3 linked regions of the Homo sapiens genome follow. The protein of the gene in region 3 interacts with the protein of the main gene of each other region in a pairwise test. Each region holds a gene or a part of one and is shown on either strand. Other genes may lie near its edges.

Region 1 (8,081 bases), about 34 Mb from region 3:
TGATCATAATTTTCAAATCAAATTAAGATCAAACTCCACTGACCGTCAGGTACTGTATATTCTCATTTTGATAAATTTCAAATTAATGATAAAAATGTATTAACCTGCTGGTCAATTATACATTTTATAAATATATTTTAACCAATGACATATTATCAGTAAGTACAGATTCAACGGCAAGATTTCATTAAGAAAGTGTTTCAAGCTTCAGATGCCCAAGACTTATTTAATGTGTAAATCTTCACCACTACAATAACCACATGGTTAAACGATCACCACTTCCATTAGCAAGCTCAAGCCTAATAAGTGATCTCCTGGGACTTCAGCACAGAGGTTTTCTAATTTTATTCCTCCACTCAATGTGGCTATTCTCCCTTATCTATTCACGCTGGCAAAGCTTCTAGTTAAACTGGAATTAGTAACTATTTGATGATAATAATTAACATATACTGAGTGCTTCCGATGGCGCAGTTAATTCTTACAGTTGATAAAAGTGTGGCACAAAAAGGTTAATCAAGTAGCAGAGGCAGGATTTGAACCCAGGAATTCTGGTTCCAGGGCCCGGATTCGGAGTTACAAAGGTGAGTAAACTGAAAAGAGTCCTACTTTTATTGTCATTGCTTTCTAATAAAAATTATTTTTTTCTTCCAATTGTTTAAATCTCTTCTCATTCTCTATTTAAATATTAGGCGTTCATTTAAATATTAGGCGTCTACCTTACAGTAGGACATCTTTAAACAACGTAAAAAAGGAAAGCTTTGTCTTCACCTTCACACATACCGGTCTGCCCATAAATTTTGCAATCCAGTTCTGCCTGATTCTAAACTGCTTGTCTCTTGAAGCGAATGCCTTAAAAAGTGACACTGGGATCAGGATAGTTATCTCCATCCATCCTCCCTCAGAAAAACAACTATATTCGAGTAATTCTTGGGACCACTGAGAACAATACACAGACCTTTGGGTAACTTCAAGACAAAAAAGGCAAAAAGTCGGGGAGAAGGTGTGGGAGGATGATTTTCCCCTTCTAAACGTAAGGTATAAAAGGGCTCAGAAAGCGGAAAAAGAACCCTAAAAAGCAAGGTGCGGGACGGCGTGAGGGACCACACATTGGGCGCTCCGCCCAAGGGGTCCGGCTCCTTCTCCGCGGCGATGGCGCGTCCTTGGGCTCAGCAACCCTCCTGAAGACACCTAACCTCCTCCTTCTCCAGCCTGCCCCTCTGGGGCCTGCGAGCCCCGTCCCGGGCCGGGGGTCGGAAGCCGTGCCATGTAGGACCCCGAAAAGGCCCCCAAGCTTGGCGCGGAAGGCGCCGCCAGTGACCGGCTGCGGCTGGGGGCGGAGGCCGGCAGTTGCTCGGAGCTCCGGCGGGTCAGGAGGTGACGGGAGGAGGAGGAGGCAGGAGGAAGAAAGGGGGGTTGGGAGGTAGCGTCCGGTAGGTCTGCGCAGACAGCGCTGCCAGACCTCTGACTCCCCCAGTCCTGCCGCCGCCGATAGCCCCACAAGGCGACATGGGAAGTCCGCCGGAGCAGAGGGGAGAAAATTCAAAACGAGTCTACTCAACCTCGTCTTGGCTCCGAGGCCCCGCCATGCAGACCCCTCTAGTTTTTTACTATTAAAAATAGTGCTGCAACAAACATTTTATACATCTATCTCTGTATATATGTGTAAGTATACTGAAAATGAGTTCCCAGAATTAGAATGGACAAGTCAAAGGGCATACAGATCTTAATTTTGTTAAATTCCATCAAACTGTTTTCTATTATAGCCCCAAGAAGTTCCCCTTGACTGTTTCCTTACATCCTCATATTGTTTTATGAGTCCTAATAATTAAATATCCCTTTGTTGTGTGTTGCCCTTATATTTCCCATTGTATGTTTGATGTTGTTTTTCTCTTACTATATAAAAGTTTTAGATTGTTAGGTAGTGACATTTATCAATCTTTTTGCTTATGAGAGTTTCCAAATTTCCTGACATGCTTCGAAACACCTTCTCACAATGAAACATAAATACATAAATTCATCCATAAATGCATAAATGAGACAGATCTGTAAATATTGATAGAAAACAACTGGACACACAGTCTTAAGTGTAAAAGCCAATCACAGAAGAGTATGCACAATGTTACAGGTGTAACTACATATTTGCGTATGTCTAAAACACCTGTGGAAGGTGGCCTGGAGATGGGGAGAAATGGGTAGATGGAGGATTTTCACTCTTCATTCTTTTTACTATTCGAACTATTTTTTTATGTATTATCTATTCAAATGAAAATGTTTAAATCTTATTGTTTAAAAAGCAACCTCTATCATGTTTGCATACAAAAAAGTCTCCCTTTTCACCTACATTTCATTCCCTACCATTTAAAGCTTAACACATTTAGAATGTAGTATAATTAGTGAGGCAGGGATCCAGTATTGCCTTCTACCAAATAGATCTGTTGAATTTTTAGGTTTGTTAAGAGGCAAAGACCAAGGGTGGAGAGGAAGGAGTGAGAGTGCCAGGTGAGGAAAGTCTAAAATCTCTCGACTTAATATGAGAATGGTGGCCACGGAAGGCTAAGAGTCTCTAGTGCCAGGTGTGGGTTATACACACATCTTCTATGCAATTACCGTGACAAGCACCCAGGGTGTGAGGTGAGGTGTACCTCCTAGCTTGATGCTGCTGGTTCAAGTCCCAAATCAGAGAGGGGAAGCCAAAAAAGGAGCCGAGAAAGATGAGATGCTTCGCACGGTTTTTAAAGTAAAGTCGGAACATTCCTGACCGACTAGGCAGCCCCAGGCGCTCAGGTGGGAATCACTGCCCAGCACACAGAACCCAGAGTCCAGCGCGGCTGTCACCGGCTCTAGGCTGGATCTAAGCGTCGGACCAGGAGGCCGCAGTCAAAATCTGTTCTCCTACCTGTGTACGAAACCAAACTATTCTCGTCGAAGTGCTTTCCCAGGCTCCTAAGACGCAGCTTCCATACTCGCCGCGTTCTCAGCTGTTGGTCGTATCCTAGCAACGGCCCTGGCACCACCTCTTCCTGCCGGAGCACGGCAGGGGTGGGAAGGAGAGGAGCCAGAGGCGGGTGGGGGGGAGGAGCCAGAAGAGGGCAGCGGGGAGGGGCCGGGAAGGAGGAGCGCGGCAGGGTAGGGGGAGGAGCCAAAGACTGGGGGCGGGGCCGGGAAGGAGGAGGGCGGCAGAAGAGAAGGGGATGAGCCAGAGGCGGGGAGGTGGGGCCGGGAAGGAGGAGTGCGGCAGGAGAGAAGAGGAGTAGCCAGAGGCGGAGGGGCGGTGTCGGGAAGGAGGAGCGCGGCAGGAAATAAGGGAAGGAGCTAGAGGCGGGCTGGGGGCCGGGGTCTGGAAGGAGGATCGCGGTAGGGAAGAAGAGGAGCCAGAGGAGGGGGATGGGGGCTGCAAAGGAGGAACGCGATAGGGAAAAGGGGGAGGAGCCAGAGGCGAGGGGGCGGGGAGAAGAAACATGGCAGGAGAAAGGGGAGGAGCCAGAGGCGAAGAGACAGGAAGAGGGACGCGTCAGGGAGAAGGGGAGGAGTCAGAGGCGAGCGGGCGTGGAGGAGGGAAGCGGCAGGGAGAAGGGGCGGGGCCAGAGGCGAAGGGGCGGGGAGGAGGGACGCGGCAGGGAGAAGGGGAGGAGCCAGAGGCGGAGGCTGTTACCAACTGGCTACCTAGATCCAAGTGAATCAGGACACTAACTTCTCTCCAAGATCTTTTACACTTGTGAAACGGCACAGCTCTCTAAACCAAACACTGACAGCAGTTTAATTTTACAGATATAAAAAAAATCCGAGTCAGAGAAATCATCACGATGAAGTCAGAGGCGAGAAACTGTCAGGTGCCTACTTGCTTTTGTTAAACTAACAACTTGGCTCTCAGCTTCCTGGCAGCCAAAGAGAAAAGGGAGATAGTAGCTATCAAATAATTCTGCTTAGAAGAACTTTTGTTAATCACTAAATTAGTTAATAAACTAAATTTTGTCTAACAACAAATTCTTTTTTTTTTTTTTTTTTCTAGTGTATACAGAGTCTTGCTCTGTCGCCCAGGTTGAAGTGCAGTGGTTCGATCTCGGCTCAATGCAACCTCTACCTCCCTGGCTCCCGCGATTCTCCTGCCTCAGCCTCCTGAGTAGCTGAGATTACAGGCGCCCGCCACCACCCCCGGCTAATTTTGGTATTTTTAGTAGAGATGGGGTTTCACCATGTTGGCCAGGCTGATCTGGAACTCCTAGCCTCAAGCAATCCGCCTTCAAAAGTGTTGGGGATTACAGGAGTGAGCCACCGCGCCCGGCCTATCAATGAATAAGAAAACTTTTAAAGAACCACAGGATAGTATTGGAGGTCAAGTCAAGTATGTTCCTCTTGGAAATTTAGTAACAAACTACATGTTGCTATCTCATAATAGCAGCTAACATTTATGAAGTATTCATTGTCATGAGGCACCGTACATAGATTTCTAATTTAATCCTTACAACGATTTTATTAGGGAGAAACTGCTATTAGACCCATTTTGTAAATGAGAAAACTAAGGCACACAAAGTTTAATGAGGGAACCAGGATTAAACCTAAGCAATCTAACTCCAGGTCCCAGATTTTTTAACCATTACAGTACTGTTTAATTTGATTTGATATGTTAAAAGGATTAATAAAATTAATACAGGTCCATTCCCTTATTCATAAATGTTCATTGTCTTCATTTATTTCTTTATACTGTTCTGCTGAAATTGCACTCTCATCTCCCCAATAACTTTGTAATATCCAATGCCATTTTTTTCAGTCATCCCATTTTAAAATATATTTTTACTAGAATAGTGAAATATATATTCAGATAAAATTGGCTTTGTTTTAATAATGATCAGTAAAAGTAAATTCATTTTAATCATTTCCACACATTCATGAAAAGTAAAGGGGAAAAATGGGCATAGAGGTAACCACTAGAATTAGGCTTTCTTGGATGGGTAGACCAGGTGTGGAGGTGTGCAGATAAGATTTTACAAACACTCATACACTCCCATCTCCAAAATCATAATTTATCTTACATTCTGCTACTAATAAACATTCCACTGGTTTTAAACATTCACTTTGCTGGGTCTCCTCTTTAAAATTTGTCATTCACTGTTCTCAATGTTAGAGACGGTATGCAAACAGTAGGTTTAGGAATAGAGTCAGGAGATGGGGGAAGAAAAACTGGTAGGAGAGAACTTAAGTGTCTCACAGTGTTAAATGTGACTTGATAGCCACTATTCATTTTTTTTTGTAGTTTGCTGTGAGGATGACTTTATACAATTTAATCTTAAATAGGAACCTAACTTAGTTAGGCTTCCTTGGGTAGTCTGTGGAGCATGGAAAAGTTATTAGCATGTCAAAATCCTGTCCACGCACACATACACGCACATACACACAAATGTAGTTTGGTTACATAATAAATTTATATTCAAACTTAATGAAAACAACCAATAGGAAAAAGCTTCTCAATTCCAAAAGTGAAAGAGTAATTTTACAATACCATTTTCCATTTTCCTTTTCATGATAAATCTATGCATTTTCTCAGGATTTATTCCACCAAACGACTTCGTATTTCTCATGAAACATCTACCTTTATTCATCTCAGCATTTATTTATGTAATAAACATTTCTTTTGATGTGCTTTTATTTTTACAAAGATGCCACCTAGTGGCTTGATAAAATCAAGCATTTCAAAGTATCTCCTGTTGTTACTACAGGTTAAAATGAATAATGAATATTTTTAATATTAAAATAATTTAGAAAACTAAGGACCTGAAAATTTTTGTTTTGGAAATTATTTAGATTAAATTTGGATCATAATACCACTTTGTGAACTTGTTAAGAGAATGGAAATATAGGTCTATTGTCCCTTTTCTGAAACCTTTTAAGACAGATGTGTTTGATATTCACAATTTTTCAGATTTTTGAAAGGAAATATGGGCATATACTTTACATTATGTAACACATTAAGAGGGTCTGAGGAAGCAGTTTAGAATCAAATATATTGATACATCTGTGGCAAAATATATTCATATTCACATTGAAGTGCGATAAATACCACAAATAGCCTCATGTAATTCAGGTGGGGTTTGTTGCCAAATGAGTTATGAAAAAACTTTGTTTTCAGAGATTTTTGAAATTAGGAATTTAGATAAGGGACTTTGGACCTGTTTTACTCTGGTGAAAAATAATTCACCCTCCAGTTATAGAGAGATTAAAATGCCAATATTTTGTAAAAAAAAAAAAATAGTTATCTTTAGAAAACCTAATAGATTCACCTAAAAAAAAATTGAAGATCATGAGAAATACCAAAATAGAAATCTTTGCAATGCTTTTCATTTAATTATATACAGATGCCAATCATAAATTACATTTAAGTGTACCACAAAAAATTAGCTGCTAATGTAAACCTAAAGACCAATTTGAAAATTATTAGTGATGCATGGCAAGTTCAATTCATAAATTTTGTGGCACAGTCAAAAAAAAATTTAACCTTGGTTGTTTCTTTTTTTTTATTCCTATGTGTAATTTACCATGTTCCAATTCCCCACCACCACTATGGTCATGGAAATATATGTTGATGGTGCCACACTCAGCCTGGATTCCTTGTGGGTCTATGAGCACTCCTTGCCAACCCTCCTTAGACATGCAGTATGAATAAAAAATACACTTAAGACACTGGGATTTAAGGATAACCCATGCTAAGTCACTACATGACTCACTATTTTACTTCACGATCTAGAATACTGACTCATCTCTAGTCTCTCAAATGAATTCTTCCTGTCCCCATCAATCATTCAAACCCCTTATCACATTCCCACTGTGATTTCCTGTGAATTTTGTCTAAAATAAAACGTCGACCTCCTCTAAACACAACTGGTAGCCTCTCATTTACTTTTCTCTAAAACAATTGGCATTACTATTGTTGTAGCATAGGCTACAATCTCACTGAACACTTAGTTTTTGTTTTTGTTTTTAGTAGAGACGGGGTTTCACCATATTGGCCAGGCTGGCCTCGAACTTTTGACCTCAAGTGATCCACCCACCTCGGCCTCCCAAAGTAGTGGGATTATAGGTGTGAGCCACCACGCCTCCCTACTGAACACTTAGTTTTAATGGGAAGACTGCACTCAGCAAATCCAAAATACTAGTGATATGTTCAGCAATTTGGTACTTAATCCCATACCCCACAATACACTTGTGTAGGGTGTTAGACTTCTGTATGTTTACATAATCATAGAGGATGGGAGGAAAAAGAAAAAGCTGCTATTAGCCTACATGTGGGAATTTTCCTATATATTGTCATCTCCCTTTTAAAAAAGATACATTCATAAACATTGTTATTGGCTTAATTAGCTTCGCTCCTCTGAATGTGATTAGAAAATTGACAATAAAATATAAGCTCTCTTTTCTTCCATCCCCCAATTCTGAGGGAAAAGGAGGGGGAGGGGAGAATGAGGGAGAGTGAAAGGATACAATAAAACTTGAGGCCTGATTGCACATGATGACTACTACTGCTGGCATCAATTCATTCTATTCCAATGACAGACTAGTTGATCCTACTGGTGTGGGAAAGATGGCAACCTTGAGACCTGAGCCTTACTCCAGTAGGGTGCCCCCCTATATCTTGTTTGCCCAGGACAGTCATGGTGTACATCTGTTATCCTTATGTAATTATTTTCACTCAAAATCATTCCAAGTGGAATGATAAATTATCCTATAGTTATCCTAAATATAAGCCATTTTCATCCCAAAGGAAAGAATGCCAAGAAATTGGAATCGTCTGCACTAAGTCCCAGTGTGGGAGAAAGGGGGCATCAACTTTGTTGCCATTTCTTCTTTCTTAGCAAAGCTCAAATTGATTAGCTTCTCTTTCTTTTGAAGTATCTGCAGTATGATGATTAACTAGAATGAAACCCATGGGAGAACTGAAATAGGCCATTCTGAAAATTATTAAAATTAGTTTAGTAGCCACTCAAAACACTGAAGATCTCTGAATAAAAGAATCATTTGCAAAGTGATCAGGAGACTTAACCTGGATGTTTATAGGAAGCAACTGGGAAAAGACTGAAGGAGTAAAAACG
Region 2 (7,355 bases), on a different chromosome or scaffold from region 3:
GCTGTAAATTCTAGAAGGCTTGTGTACCATGTGGCAATTTCTTTTAGCTTCTTCAAAGGATTTAGCATAGTACTTTTTTATAGTTTTTTTTTTTTTTTTTTTTTTTTGAGACAGAGTCTCACTCTGTCACCAGGCTGGAGTTCAGTGGCGCAATCTCAGCTCACTGCAACCTCTGCCTCCCAGGTTCAAGCGATTCTCCAGCCTCAGCCTCCTGAGTAGCTGAGACTACAGGCATGTGCCACCACGCCTGGCTAATTTTTTGTATTTTTAGTAGAGACAGGGTTTCACCGTGTTAGCCAGGATGGTCTCGATCTCCTGACCTCGTGATCCGCCCACCTCGGCCTTCCAAAGTGCTGAGATTACAGGCGTGAGCCACCACGCCCAGCCTTGATTTTTTTAAAAATATGAGTGTAATGTATTTCCCCTGCTAATTAAGTAATTAACTAAAATTAAATAAAGGTCAGGAGACAGAAGAGTACAAGAAAGAAGGAAAAATGGTTAATCTTTTTTTTTTTTTTTTTTTTTTTGTGTGTGTGTGTGTGAGATGGAATCTCGCTCTGTCGCCCAGACTGGAGTGTGGAGTACAGTGGCACAATCTTGGCTCACTGCAATCTCTGCCTCCCGGGTTCAGGCGATTCTCATACCTCACCCTCCCAAGTAGCTAGGATTACAGGTGTGCACCACGACACCTGGCTAATTTTTGTATTTTTAGTAGAGACGGGGTTTCATCATGTTGGCCAGGCTGATCTCGAACTCCCAGTCTCAAGTGATGTGCCCGCCTCGGCCTCCCAAAGTGCTGGGATTACAGGTGTGAGCCATCATGCCCAGCCAAAATGGTTAGTCTTAATTTTGTCATGCAGAGTTATGCTTGGAAGAAGTGTTTTCTGGTCAGTAATTTGTGAGTCTTTAAATTGCAATACTAGAAGCCAGATATGCATCTAATATGTGTATGTATGATCTTTCATAAACATAGGAGTTTAAGACCAAACTGGCCAACATGGTGAAACCCAATCTCTACTAAAAGTACAAAAATTAGCTGGATGCAGTGGTGTGTTAGACATTTTCTACATGAACTGGTCTTGCTAAGATCACCAGTGACCTTAAAATGTTTACTAGTACTATTTAACCTCTCCACGTATTTCATACTGCTTGGCCATTGCTGCCTGACATTCTCCCCTAGGTTCTATCTTCTCTATCCTTGTTTCACCTGTTCTTCCTTTGTGCCTTTCCTTCCTCTTTTCTTCCATATTTTCCTGGTTCCTTTTTCTTTCTAATAGTCTCTTAAATATTGATCTTTTCCAGAATTCTTTCCTTAGCCTCTTCTTATTTCTAGTAATCTATCTGGGTATTTTTTAAATCCACTCTTATGGTTTTAATTACTACCTGAATATAACTTTGAAATTTGTACATCTCACCTAGATCTCTCTGGGTTTTTTTTTTTTTTTTTTTTGAGACGGAGTCTCGCTCTGTCACCCAGGCTGGAGTGCAGTGGCGCGATCTCGGCTCACTGCCAGCTCTGCCTCCCAGGTTCACACCATTCTCCTGCCTCAGCCTCCTGAGTAGTACACCCAGCCTCCTGAGTAGTACGCCCGGCTAATTTTTTGTATTTTTGGTAAAGATGGGGTTTCACCGTGTTAGCCAGGATGGTCGCGATCTCCTGACCTCGTGATGTTTTGTTTTTTGAGACAGAGTCTTGCTCTGTTGCCCAGGCTGGAATACAGTAGCACAATCTTGGCTCACTGCAACCTCTGCCCCCGCCGGGTTCAAGCAATCCTCCTGCCCCAGCCTCCTTGGTAGCTGGGATTATAGGCTCCCGCCACCATGCCCAGCTAATTTTTCTATTTTTAGTAGAGATTCACCATGTTGGCCAGGCTGGTCTCGAACTCCTGACTTCAGGTGATCCACCCGCCTCAGCCTCCCAAAGTGCTGGGATTGCAGGCGTGAGCCACCATCTGAGAATTTACATTGTACCAGAGCAAAATATTTTAAATTAAAAAACAAGAAACAATTTTAGCCAAAAAAAGGAAAACCACCCCAAAATAGATTTTTTTTAAAGAAATAAGGCGTCAAAGACATTCTAGAAACCTTACCCAATCCAAACTTTGGCCCCAGTTCTAACCCTTGCCCTTGCCTTGTATTGCCTTTATGCCACCAACTTTATAAGCCATGCTTGGTTATGATGATTATTAGAGACACAGGTACTTAAAATAGGACAGGGGTTCTAGCCACTATGTCTTCCAATCCCTGTTATTTGTAAAACTTTATGATAATGGAGAAGTTATATACTGTTGGCATTTTATTATTAAATTAGATGTTTGCCTGTTTTTAAGGTGGCTTGTGTTTTTGTTTTTTGGTTTTTTCTTAGGCATCTGTGGGAAAACTAGAATTGCAGAAGTTGGAGGTGTGCCTTACTTATTGCCTCTTGTAAACCAAAAAAAAGTAAGTACTTTTACTCTGCATATTCACATGAAGATTGTAGAAGTTGGGTTGATTACTGTGTTTATTATTAGAAGACCTGTTGATCAGTTGGCAAGGAAGTGCTAATGGATCAGTAATAAAAGGTAAACCAGGGACTTTGTACAAGTTGTGACTTAAATAATATTTTTTCCTCTTCTATAGGTTTATGATCTGAATAAAATTGCAAAAGAAATCAAGCTGCCTGGAGCCTTTATTCTTGGAGCAGGAGCAGGTCCATTTCAGACTCTCGGGTTCAATTCTGAGGTCAGCATATATAAGAAAATTATTTTACTTTATTGGTTTGACATTTGGTTTGTCTTTTTGCTTTTAGTGCCAAAAATCCTACTTTCTGAGTGAATTGTAAATCTCTCTGCAGGTTTGATACTACTTGATGTAGATTTCTGCTATAGCACACACTCCAACTGGACTAACTGTAATGGAGTACTAACTTGTAGTTTTAGATTTTCTTAGGTCATAGCTTCAGCCTTAGATAAATGCAGGGTTCTATGGTATTCTGTTGAAGGTTCTGGATTATAAAATATTTATATTCTTACAGGATTCCGAGCTTATCTATAAATCTTTGCTTTGGGTATGCAGGCAGCTTTGGATTAGAAGATGAATGGAATATTAGTGATCTAGTCAACTCCTTCTTCCACACCAAATAGTAGGAAACTATCACAATAGTATGATGGTTATTTATGAAAGTTAATAGTTATTACTAGTATATATTATTACCATATGAAAATATTACTGTTTCTTTGAATCTCATGAATACAAGACTTCAGTCTGCTCATTCTCTCATAACCTCTTCAGATATGAATAGTAGTCATACAAGTTCTTTGCAGAAACATTAGTACAATTTGCCTAGTGTTCAAGTTAGGAAAAAAAGTTAAAAATTTAAAATAAGATATTTAACGCAAGTTATAGATACACTGTAAGAAATCCAATAAATATCTTTTTTTTTTTTTTTTTTTTTTTTGAGATGGAGTCTCGCTCTGTCGCCATGCTGGAGTGCAGTGGCGCGATCTTGGCTCACTGCAACCTCCACCTCCCAGGTTCAAGCAATTCTCTTGCCTCAGCCTCTTGAGTAGCTGGGACTACAGGTGTGTGCCACCACGCCCAGCTAATTTTTGTATTTTTAGTAGAGACAGGTTTTCACCATGTTGGCCAGGATGGTCTTGATCTCTTCTCTTGACCTCGTGATCCGCCCCCCTTGGCCTCCCAAAGTGCTGGGATTACAGGCATGAGCCACAGCGCCCGGCCTATAAATGTTTTCCAAGTTTTTTATGTCTAAAATTAAATATTATGTATTTTATGTTCTCTTATTAGGACTTGAACTAAAATGTCTTAAAAGGATTAAATGTTTTGTAACATTATTCAAGATATTCTCTTTGCAGAGATACAAAGATTGACTAATTGCCTCACTTTCTTTTCAGTTTATGCCAGTTATTCAGACAGAAAGTGAACACAAGCCTCCTGTAAATGGAAGTTACTTTGCCCATGTGAACCCTGCAGATGGAGGGTGCCTACTGGAGAAATACAGTGAGAAATGTCATGATTTTCAGTGTGCATTACTGGCTAATCTTTTTGCCAGTGAAGGCCAACCTGGCAAGGTGATTGTGTCCATAAAAATACAATATTCCCTAAATGTTCTCAGAAAGCTAAAAATGTGAACTTTTACTGCCATAAATATGGTTTTGCTAAGAAAATTAGTTTCCCACTTTGGGAGGCCAAGCTGGGTGGATAACTTGAGGTCAACTTGAGGTCAGGAGTTCAAGACCAGCCTGGTCAACATGGTGAAACCCCATCTGTACCAAAAAATACAAAAATTAGCAGGGTGTGGTGGTGTGTGCCTGTAATCCCAGCTACTCGGGGGGGCTGAGGTGAGAGAATCGCTCAGACTCGGAAGGCAGAGGTTGCAGTGAGCCAAGATCATGCTACTACCCTCCAGTCTGGGCCACTGAGTGAGACTCTGTCTCAAAAAAAAAAAAAAAAAGAAAATTAGAGCTTCCTAAGTCAAAGCTCTTTAAATAACCCAGTAATGAAAGGTTCAGAGAGTATGACAGGCAGAGCAAAAGTCATCTTTAAGGTTAAGAATAATATGGCTGGAGGCCAGACGCGGTGGCTCACGCCTGTATTCCCAAGCATTTTGGGAGGCCAAGGTGGGTAGATCACCTGAGGTCAAGCATTTGAGACCAGTCTGGCCAACATAGCGAAACCTCGTCTCTACTAAAAATACAAAAATTAGACAGGGAAGGTGGCACATGCCTGTAGTCCCAGCTACTTGGGAGGCTGAGGCAGGAGAATTGCTTGAACCTGGGAGACAGAGGTTGCAGTGAGCCAAGATTGCACCATTGCACTCCAGCCTGGGCAACAAAGCAAGACTCTGTCTCCAAAAAAAAAAAAAAAAAAAAAAAGAATAGTATGGCTGGCACAATGGCTTATGCCTATAATTCCAGTCCTTTGAGAGGCCAAAGCTGGAGGATCACTTAAGGCTGGCAGTTTCAGACCAGCCTGGGCAACATGGCAAGACCCTGTCAAAAAAAAAAAAAAAAAATTTTTTTTTTTAATTAGCCAGGTGTGGTGGTACATGCCTATAGTCCTAGCTACTCAGGAGGCTGATGCAGGAGGATCCCTTGTGCCCAGGTGTTTGAGGCCGCAACGAGCTATGATCACACCACTGCACTCCTACCTAGGTGACAGCAAGACCTGTCTTAAAAAAAAAAAAAAAAGACTACTTAGTAAGCAAGACCTTTTTCTGAGAACTAAAAGGTAATAGAATATTAATTTGGGGAGTGAGTTTGTCATCTACATGAACCATACAGCTAAAATAAATAATGCCTACTTACAGGTAGTAAATAGGTTATTTGCTTCTTTCTGATGAATCACACATTGCTCTAGATAGAAATGGTGGTAGCAAAAACTTACAGCAAGAACAAAGTAAGGAAAACTAATGCCTTACTTGATATTTACTTCCTATTAGTACACAAAAATATGATTTCAGTGTTAGCTTTTGTGAAGACTCTCCAGTTTTGGAAGTAGAGATAGCCTCTTCAGCTACTTTGAGATAAGAGATTGAGAAGTGAAAATACTTAACGTCCAAGTTGTGGAGATAATACAGAATTTTAAGGGAAGTGAGAAAATGTAATCATTTTCTCCTCATCCCCACTTACCAAAGGTTAATTCCTTTAACCAAAGAATTACCAAAGGTAATTCTCAATCTTTGACTGCCTCGACACGTATGTTAAGAGTCTCTAGACTCTCTGCACTGAGAAACTTGTCTTTCTCAGTTTCTCAGTTCAAGAAAGCATGCTTAAGACTTACTAGTAAATTACATGTAACTGATAAGTATGTGTGTGTGTGTGTGCATACATATATATATGACTGATCAAAATTCACGGGATTGCAACATCTCAACTCAGATCTGGGGGCTCTAAGCAAAGAACAGAATATTTGCTTGATAGAATTAAATTATATAATGTTTTATTTCAGTAGTTATTTTGCAGCATAGTCAATGGTATGCATCTTTATGTCCTCTATAGGTAATTGAGGTGAAAGCCAAAAGAAGAACTGGACCACTTAACTTTGTGACTTGTATGAGAGAGACCCTGGAAAAACATTATGGAAATAAGCCTATAGGAATGGGAGGTACTTTCATAATTCAGAAGGGAAAAGTGAAGTCTCACATTATGGTAAGAGCCCATGTGTGCATACATGCATGAAGGAGTTTGTGTGTGTGCACTTACTTAAGATCTTAGGATTTTTTTTTTTTTTTAAACGGATCCTTGCTCTGTTGCCCATGCTGGAGTGTAGTGGCACAATCTTGGCTCACTGCAACCTCCATCTCCCGGATTCAAGGGGTTCTCCTGCCTCAGCCTACTGAGTAGCTGGGATTATAGGCATGCAGCATCACAACCGGCTCATTTTGTAGTTTTAGTAGAGACAAGGTTTTGCCACATTGGCCAGACTGGTGTCGAACTCCTGACCTCAGCTGATCCACCTGTCTCGGCCTCCCAAAGTGCTGAGATTACAGACGTGAGACGCTGCACCGGGCCAGATCTTAGGATTGTAAAGTATGTGTTGGGAATTCTACATTTGAAGACACTTTAAACAAATCCTTTTTATTATGATTGTATTACTTTAAAATTTAAATGATAATTTTATAAATCAGATTGTAAGATAATATCTTTGTCCATGTTAGTATATTAGAACTTTATTTTGGATATGTTTGTTTTTAAGATCAAGATAAATTCAAGGCCTGCAGAGTGACTCATGCCTGTAATCCCAGCACTTTGGGAGGCCCAGGTGGGAGGACCGCTGGAGGCCAGGAATTCAAAACCAGCCTGGTCAACATAGTGATGATGGCAGCGGCAGGCTCTCTGGAGCGGCTGCAGCAGGGAGGCACGGCTGAGGCTACACACTCTATGGAGCGGGTGGGAGCTGAAGACAGGTGGGAGTCCTGCCCCTTCCGAGTTGGCGCTGGAGCTCCGTTGGTGCCGCTGCAATCGCCCAAGCCATGGCTGTAGTCCCTGGCATCCCTGTGCTCTCCCAGTGGGAACAGGCGAGAGCCCCAACTGCCCAGGCGCAGCTGCAGCAGCTCAAACCCGCGGCTGCAGACCTGGGTCTCCCGCTCCACGGAGCAGGCAGGAGCCCTGCCTTCTCCACACAGCTGCAGCTGCCCAAACCGTGGCTGCGGACCCAGGCATTCCTGCATTCTTGGGGGTCTGGGAAGGCCCCCACTGCTCTTACAGGCTTGGAAATGCCTGCTCCCACTGCCTGGCTTCTCCCTGCTGTCGGCGCCTGCTCCGATCCAGGAGCAAAGTCAGGCAGAGCCCGGTCGCTGTCGCAGCCCAGCCAGGTGTGCACACGCTCAGGGCACTGCTGACACACCAGCCCCC
Region 3 (7,711 bases):
ATTCTGTCACTGAACATGCTAATGGCTAAATTTCAACACTGCTGCCAATCAATAACAGAGATAATATGCCAATTATTTATTACCGTTGAATCCTCTGCAAATAAAAATGTTTCTAATTCATTCTATAGTGCTTAAAACAAGATCAGTATTCCCGGAAAGAAATGATATCTAGAAGGTAATCAAGACAGGATAAGCAGGCATTTTTCAAGCTCTAATTAATAAACAGAAATTAAAATTGATTGGAAAGACAATCACCCCACAGTGTTCCTCAAGCGTTTCCACATTGTAAGGAACATTTACTTCAGCACACTAGGTGCACAGGTAAGTTTAGCAAATGGTGACACTAACTCTACCCACTTCTAAAATCTACTCATTGAAGGACTTCCAAGAGGAAGAATGACAAGTCGCCCATGATGCCACTATTGATTGACATCTTTCAGATTATTTAAAACCCCGAGTTTCCAAAATCAAGCCTGGAATCTTTGGAATCTAAAAAGCTTAAATTTTATAAAGGATAGAAATATAAGGAATAATCCATCACTCAAATCAAACCAACGGGGTGGGGAGCTACAAGGAATAGGAAAACAGGAGATGACAAAAATACAGATTATTGAGCCCTCCAGACAAAAGGATGCCAAACAGGGATTAAAAAACTACACTTTGGGTACAACATACACTGCTTGGGTGACAGCAGCACTAACATCTCAGAATTCACTATATAATGCATCTACGTCACCAAAAACCACTTACCCCCCCCCCAAAAGCTATTGAAGTATTTTTAAAAATTAAAGACTTTAAAAATAAAACTTAAAAAAGAATCTCAAACAGGGAAGTTGAGCACAAACCAAACACAGCAGACAGCACACCCCAGAATGGATGGGACCACATGGGGCTGTGCACAACCAGATACGTGCCGTTAAGGAGCGTTCAGCTTCCTATTTTCAGAGGCGCTCAACACTACAGCAAGTAAAGAGACTGTTGAATTTACCAAAAACTGTAATTTAAATCAAATGCTATTATTCTTCCAAGCCATCACTTACTTGAGTGATGGTATCAATGCTCACAGCCATTTCCTAACTTTTCAAAGGTACTCTCATGCACCCTTAGACTGAATTCTCTAGGAATAAACTTAACGGGGTTTAAAAATGAAAGGTGTAAGATTTGACAGCAACAAATAGGCTTTCTATTCTATTAGTAACTTAATAAAATTACACTTCTATCAATGGAAGAACAGAATAAAAGTAATTTTCTCAGCCAGGCGCAGTGGCTCACGCCTGTAATCCCAGCACTTTGGGAGGCCAAGGTGGATGGATCACTTGAAGTCAAGAGTTCCAGACCAGCCCTGACAACATGGTGAAATCCCATCTCTACTAAAAATACAAAAATTAGCTGAGTGTGGTGGTGGGTGCCTGTAATCCCAGCTACTCAGGAGGCTGAGGCAGGAGAACTGCTTGAACCCGGGAGGCAGAGGTTACAATGAGCCAAGATCACACCACTGCACTCCAGCCTGGATGACAGAGCAAGACTCCGTCTCAAAAAAACAAACAAACAAACAAACAAACAAAACAGTAGTTTTCCCAAGTACAAATGAATGCTCCCTCCTCCTCAAAAAAAAATTTTCACAAGAAAGATTCCTTAGGAGTCAAACATATTTTACCTGTAACACCATGTTGAGTAAACTGTTCACAGCTAGAGTTGCATGAAACACTCCACAAAGTCTAGAACAACCAAATGTGTTCTAAAATTGTGTAGTACCAACGCTATAGCAAAATGCTTCCTAGTTTAAGAATTACAGGTAAAGACTTTTCATTTTCCTGGTATTTCTGGACATCCCTGGATGTCTCAAGGCTGCTGCACTGACTCATCCCACCCACTAATGAAAAATATAAAACGCCTTAGTCCAAGTATCTACTTGAATTTATTTAGTAACAAAAAACCACCCGTCCTGATGGCATAAACAAAAGCGCGCTCTATGATCGCACAATGCTAGTTGTGAGTGGGATTTCCAACACTAGAGGGCGCTGTCCCGCTTTCCCGCACGTGCCATGGCTGCATACCTACCTTATCCAGAGACAGGAAGTGCCGCGTGCTGGGTTATTTCCGACACAACAGACAAGCACATCACTCGTTGTTCTTCTTGTACTTCAACTGTCCCCAATTACTTAACTGTTGCTATGCTTTTTTGAGCTCCTATGAAATTCCTTAAAATATTTTTTACTTATTTTCAGTAACAGCACGTGAGGTTGCTTAAGGGCTCTGGCGTATCCCGAGCAATCTCTATGCCCTCCTGCAAAGCCAGCACGGATGGAACACGCTACGCTGTTTGTCAGGGAACCGCCTGTCCTTCTAGCGGTTTTCACGCTGTTTAGTTCCAAAACAGTTTCAAATTCAGTCAAAGTCTAGTTCAATATTCACTACAGCTAGGATTCTAGTTACCAATGGTAATCATGAAAGATATTACAAACTGAGAAACAAAAGACCTTGACTGTCCCAAAGTGATTTTTTTTTTTTTTTGAGATGAAGGCTTGCTCTGTCTCCCAGGCTGGAGTGCAATGGCACGATCTCAGCTCACTGCAACGTCCACCTCCCGGGTTCAAGCAATTCTTCTGCCTCAGCCTCCAGAGTAGCTGGGATTACAGGCGCCTGCCACCACACCCAGCTAATTTTTCTATTTTTAGTAGAGACAGGGGTTTCACCATCTTGGTCAGGCTGGTCTCAAACTCCTGACCTCAGGTGATCCACCCGCCTCAGCCTCCCAAAGTGCTGGGATTACAGGCGTTGAGCTACCGCGCCCGGATCCGTAAGTGATCTTACATCAAACTAGAACATACTTTAAGAGTGAAAAATTATACAATGGTTTCTTCCCTCTCCTGTAGAAATGTTACCATAATTAAATGTTTGATCAATTGCTAAATCACAACTTACAATATGAAAATCTTCATATACTTCAAATATACTGAAGAAAATGTCTACATGTAACTGAGGTGCGGCATCCACCTGAATGAACAGCACGAAACGCTATTAAAGTGACACTAGAAGCCCAGGCACAAATCATACACAGACACAAAAAAGCTCCAGATCCCACTCAGGAAGAATGCACCAACACATTCGCATTTATTTTCTTTTTTTTTTTTTTTAAAGCAAATGACAAAGACCCAGTTTACCAGCTTTACTTTTTTAAACCTAAGCTTAACATTACATATTTAAACAATTGTCAAAACTTACTAAGTTGCCAGCATTCATGCACAACTAGAAAACATCCTTAATTTATATTAAACCAGAAATGTATTACCATTAATGTATTAATATCTTTCACTACTAAATACTGAAAAAAATTGAAATTATTTCTGTAGAAGAATCGTCCTGGCAATGTTAACTTCACAGCAGGCCGACACTACGTGGCTCACATTTCAGACACAATGAAAAGCAGGTCCATGCTGGTGTTAGTGTACAATCTTGTCCTACACTAAAGAGTCAAGACTCACCTTGGAGTACGTTTAATAAAAAAGCAAAGTGCATACAGAGATTTACAACAATTTTAAAGACAAAAAAAAAATGGTCCTATTATGTGGTCCCAACAATCAACTCAAAAGTCTATGACAAATAGAGGCTCCGATGAGCTGTTTATAAATACTTTAGGTACAATTATACTGAAAGTCGAGTTCGTTTGAAATCTTCAAAAAAATGTTCCTGTTAATCCTCAAATGGTGCTTGTTATAGTTTAACATTTCTGTTAAGTGCGTGCGTTGAATTACTTGTTATCCAAGCGCAGCAGCTGCTCCTTACCATTTATTGTTAAGGACTTTAACTGGCCATCTTCTTCAACTTCTACTCTTTCTTGACCGTTCTCGACAATTCTGTAGGAAAAAAATTCATTTAAAAACCTTTCTGGTAAAGAAAATGCATGTGTGAGGGTAACTAAGTTGTTTAAGGACATTACTGAAATACACCATGAATATAAGTAATTTTCAGGCTGTAAAAACATGGCTGAAGCCAACCTGTCAACAACACATCTTCCTTTCCTAAAATAGAATTAACCTGACAAAATAAATTGTGTCTCAAATACCGTACAGGCGGATGCTAAATACATGCAGAGGCTATAAAACAGTAAAGGCTTTACTATTAATGATTTTCCATTTTACCATTTTAACAATGCTGCAGAAACTTATTACACTGTATTACATTAAAGATTCCCTCTAATAATTCAACAGTTAAGTAAAATTTAAGAGAAAAGGCTTTAATTAATGAATTTGGAGAGCAAAAGATTTTCATGGCGCCAGATTTAGCATACAACAACCTCTACTTCACACTCTGGGAGACGTGCAACATGGCACCAGTGAAACGTTACGCCTGCTTACTAAAAATATAAAATGCAGAATACCACAGTACCTCTTTGTAGTGATTTTTCTGCCATTAACCATTTTAGTTGAAGTTGATATCGATTTGAAGTTGCCCATGCCACTACCACCAAATGACGTGGAAGAGAATGAAGTGAGGCCCCCGTGACCTAGTGACCCAAATGAAGTAAATCCTACAGGAAAACAGAAAAGAAAAATGCTTAAAGAAATATGTCAACTAGTAATGCAAAGACAAGAGTTTGAAAGTTCAGTAGCAGAATATTTAATGTTAAGGCATAGAACCGAGGAGTAATAAACGACGCAACTATCAAGGCCTCAGCTGAAGTGCTGGGGTGCCCAGGGGGAAAGACTGTCTCTCAGATCCCTGAGTGGGGACTCTAGGGCAACGCGAGAGTGCAGCCTCTCCCCTCCCCCTCTCCTCATGCAGAGCTTCGCGGGACCCAAGCAGCTTTTCTGACATGCCAAAGACAGCCCCTGCTTGTGGGTGGTCTGCTTGGCACCATGAAGCACGTGTTGTGTTAATGTGAACATTCTGGAACCGAGACCAGTATTAAGCTCCAACCAGCAGAGCAGCCTCGGTATCAAGCTCTGTTTGCTTTGGCGTGGCTTGTAAACTCCACAGACTGTGATGGACACTCTTACCCCACAGGAACAGAGTGACCTCACCACCACAGAACAGCAAACCTAATCGGCTTCCCTCCTCTTTGCCACAGGACCACAGGGGATAAGAATCTAAATTATTAAAAAACTAAAATAATTGCAGAAAGAATACAAGTATTCGTCTCAAAAAACTATGGTTCTACAGTTCATGAACACCATTCTCAATTATACATTATGGATATTATCGCAGTGTGGACACTAAAAACTTTCACAAGTCACACTAAAGCAAACCTATTTTTCGATATTAAAGCTGGTCTACTGGTTAGAGCTTTTGTCCTGTTTCCAAAATGCTCCCATTAACACAAATGACGCATACCTCTGAACATGATTCAATCATCTAAGCGCAGATACTGTCTAGGGCTGGTGGTGTCCTGAAGAAATATGTGAACCAGGTATGTTAAGTTTACCTTTTCTAATGATTTCACTAAAAAGCAGAAACTAGTGACATTAATTTTAGTATTTTATTTAATACAGTATATCCAAAATATTTCAATTGGAAATACAAAAAATCAAAATCATTTGCGGTATTTTACACTGCTTCCCATGTTCCATCTTTGAAACCCAATGACTATTTCACACTCCTGCTGATCTCCGTTAGGAGTAGCCAGGCCTCCAGGGCTCAGGAGCTACACGTGGCTGGTGGCTACTGCACTGGTCTCAATTAAGCCTCGCTAAGTATTTATTCTTGTGATACTTTGTAAGGCACCTCAGAAGTGGAGAAGGCTTACACCCCCACCACACACACACACACACACACACACACACACAAACACACATACAGGAGCCACTGATTACTTTTAAAAAGGACAATTTACGTGGTATTTTTAACTAGCTTTCTTAACCTGTGGTCAGCATATTCCATGGTATCAAATGAGAGGATCTGTTGAGGGAAAGCACATCAAAACTGAGGTCCAATCGAGCAGAATTCACTACTTACCTAGATGGCATGAGCGCAATGTTCAAAGAAAATAAAATTCTGACCATGATGAAGAAGGAACCCTATATAACAAGCTCTCCCAATTCTTATCGTGGAGGCTTAAAAATAAAAATGAGAGAATCAAAACAGCAGCTCCAGGCCAGGAGTGGTGGCTCATGCCTGTAATCCTAGCACTTTGGGAGGCCAAGACGGGTGGATCCACCCGAGGTCAGTTCAACACCAGCCTGGCCAACACGACAAAAACCCTGTCTCCATTAAAAATACAAAAATTAGCTGGGCCTGCTGGTGCACACCTGTGATCCCAGCTACTCAGGAGGCTGAGGCACAAGAATCACTTCAACCCAGGAGGCGGGAGGCTGCAGTGAGCTGAGACCGTGCCACTACACTAAGAGTGGCACTCACTAAAGTGAGACTCTTTTTAAATTTAAAAACAAAACACAACAAAAAAAAAAGCTCCTTTGTGAAGAGAAACTGGATGAGCTTCAGAGAAAAGTGGGATTCTTCAGGCTAAACACACAGGCATATCATGATATATGCATATTCATGTTACTCCAGTCTACAAGCTTGTTTCCATCGGTGAACTATGAAGAGCTACGTGCGTGAGGCTGACACTTCACTAGTGAGTGAGCCTGGCCTGGGCTAGTGGTAAGGCCCAGCCTTCGATTCCATCCAGTGGGATGCTCCTAGGATGCTATTTGTGCACTTTTGTTTTAACTACAAAGGAGGTTAGACAGCATGAAGGTTAGTGAGATTTTCCAACTGCGTTACTTTCCACCTACTGATGCAGAACATATGTTGCCCCTTTTTAACTAAGAATTTCATTACATTCTGGCCTTGATTATTATATTAAGAGGAGAAGATTTCCAAGCACGACATTCTTAGGAAGATTAGGAGAAAATGTAGGTTAAGCGCAGACCTGTATACCAAAAAAAGCTGGCAAATCCACAATGCTATTCTACGAAAGGTATACACATATTTTAAAGCACTCTAACTAAAAGAGTATTATGATTTTATAAGTACTAACTGCTGTTAAGATAACAGAGATTAAACCTAGGGATTTAATACCTGTATCAAAAGAAGAAAATCCACTTCCAAAAGACGGAAATCCACTGAACGCAGAGAAAAACGACCCCGTCCCTCGGCTTCTGCTTCCTCGGGGACCCCTTCGATTCCCAAAGAAGTCCTCAAAAGGGTCTTCTAAAATCAAACATAAACACACACTATGAAGTCTTTTTTTCAAGTTTTTTTCCTCATGTGATAGCTACAGTAAGAGAAAATAGATGTTTGTAACATATTCAGGAACAAAAAACTTAAGAGGTTTTAACAAAAGAGCTTATCTACAGAGTAACTGAAACACTACCTCACCAACAGTTTTACTAACTAGTTTAATTCAACTAAAACTACAATACATTGTATCAAATAAATTACCAGACTTAATTAAAAAAACAGCACATACACACATTCTTTATGGAGGACCAATATGCACTTCAAACTCAGCTCTTTTCACGTCACTGATGTGAGGTCAAGACGCTGTTCCTGCTACGACCACTGGAAAAGTGAGAAAAGCTTCACACGGCAGCTGTTGTATTCCTTGGAGTCTGAGTTGCCTTCTCCAAAGCAATTCAGAAACAAACAGAAAAATGGATTACCCTAACATGCGCGCGCCCACACACACACACACACACACACACACACACGAGGAATGGTGTGGCCATGTAAGCTAAGTGTAAATACCTGATGAATCTCGGCAAAGGAA

The links.
Region 1: the proteins of DNAJB6 (region 3) and IQUB interact in binary tests that used the Homo sapiens proteins (3 or more experiments, as listed by UniProt).
Region 2: the proteins of DNAJB6 (region 3) and C11orf54 interact in binary tests that used the Homo sapiens proteins (3 or more experiments, as listed by UniProt).

What each region holds. Positions count from the first base shown.
Region 1 is NC_000007.14:123,531,596-123,539,676, forward strand, and holds the start of IQUB (IQ motif and ubiquitin-like domain-containing protein), read right to left. Parts: upstream 3,001-8,081; 5' UTR 2,897-3,000; intron 1,599-2,896; exon of another isoform or gene 769-1,598; intron 1-768. UniProt on the Homo sapiens protein: Adapter protein that anchors the radial spoke 1 (RS1) complex to the A microtubule of outer doublet microtubules in axonemes. The triple radial spokes (RS1, RS2 and RS3) are required to modulate beating of the sperm flagellum.
Region 2 is NC_000011.10:93,751,317-93,758,671, forward strand, and holds part of C11orf54 (ester hydrolase C11orf54), read left to right. Parts: intron 1-2,365; coding exon 2,366-2,439; exon of another isoform or gene 2,440-2,443; intron 2,444-2,619; coding exon 2,620-2,721; intron 2,722-3,893; coding exon 3,894-4,070; intron 4,071-5,999; coding exon 6,000-6,149; intron 6,150-7,355. UniProt on the Homo sapiens protein: Exhibits ester hydrolase activity on the substrate p-nitrophenyl acetate, in vitro. Regulates DNA damage and repair by regulating HIF1A degradation via chaperone-mediated autophagy (CMA).
Region 3 is NC_000007.14:157,381,687-157,389,397, reverse strand, and holds part of DNAJB6 (dnaJ homolog subfamily B member 6), read right to left. Parts: intron 7,153-7,711; coding exon 7,021-7,152; intron 4,532-7,020; coding exon 4,390-4,531; intron 3,858-4,389; coding exon 3,787-3,857; coding exon of another isoform or gene 3,752-3,786; exon of another isoform or gene 3,074-3,751; intron 1-3,073. UniProt on the Homo sapiens protein: Has a stimulatory effect on the ATPase activity of HSP70 in a dose-dependent and time-dependent manner and hence acts as a co-chaperone of HSP70. Plays an indispensable role in the organization of KRT8/KRT18 filaments.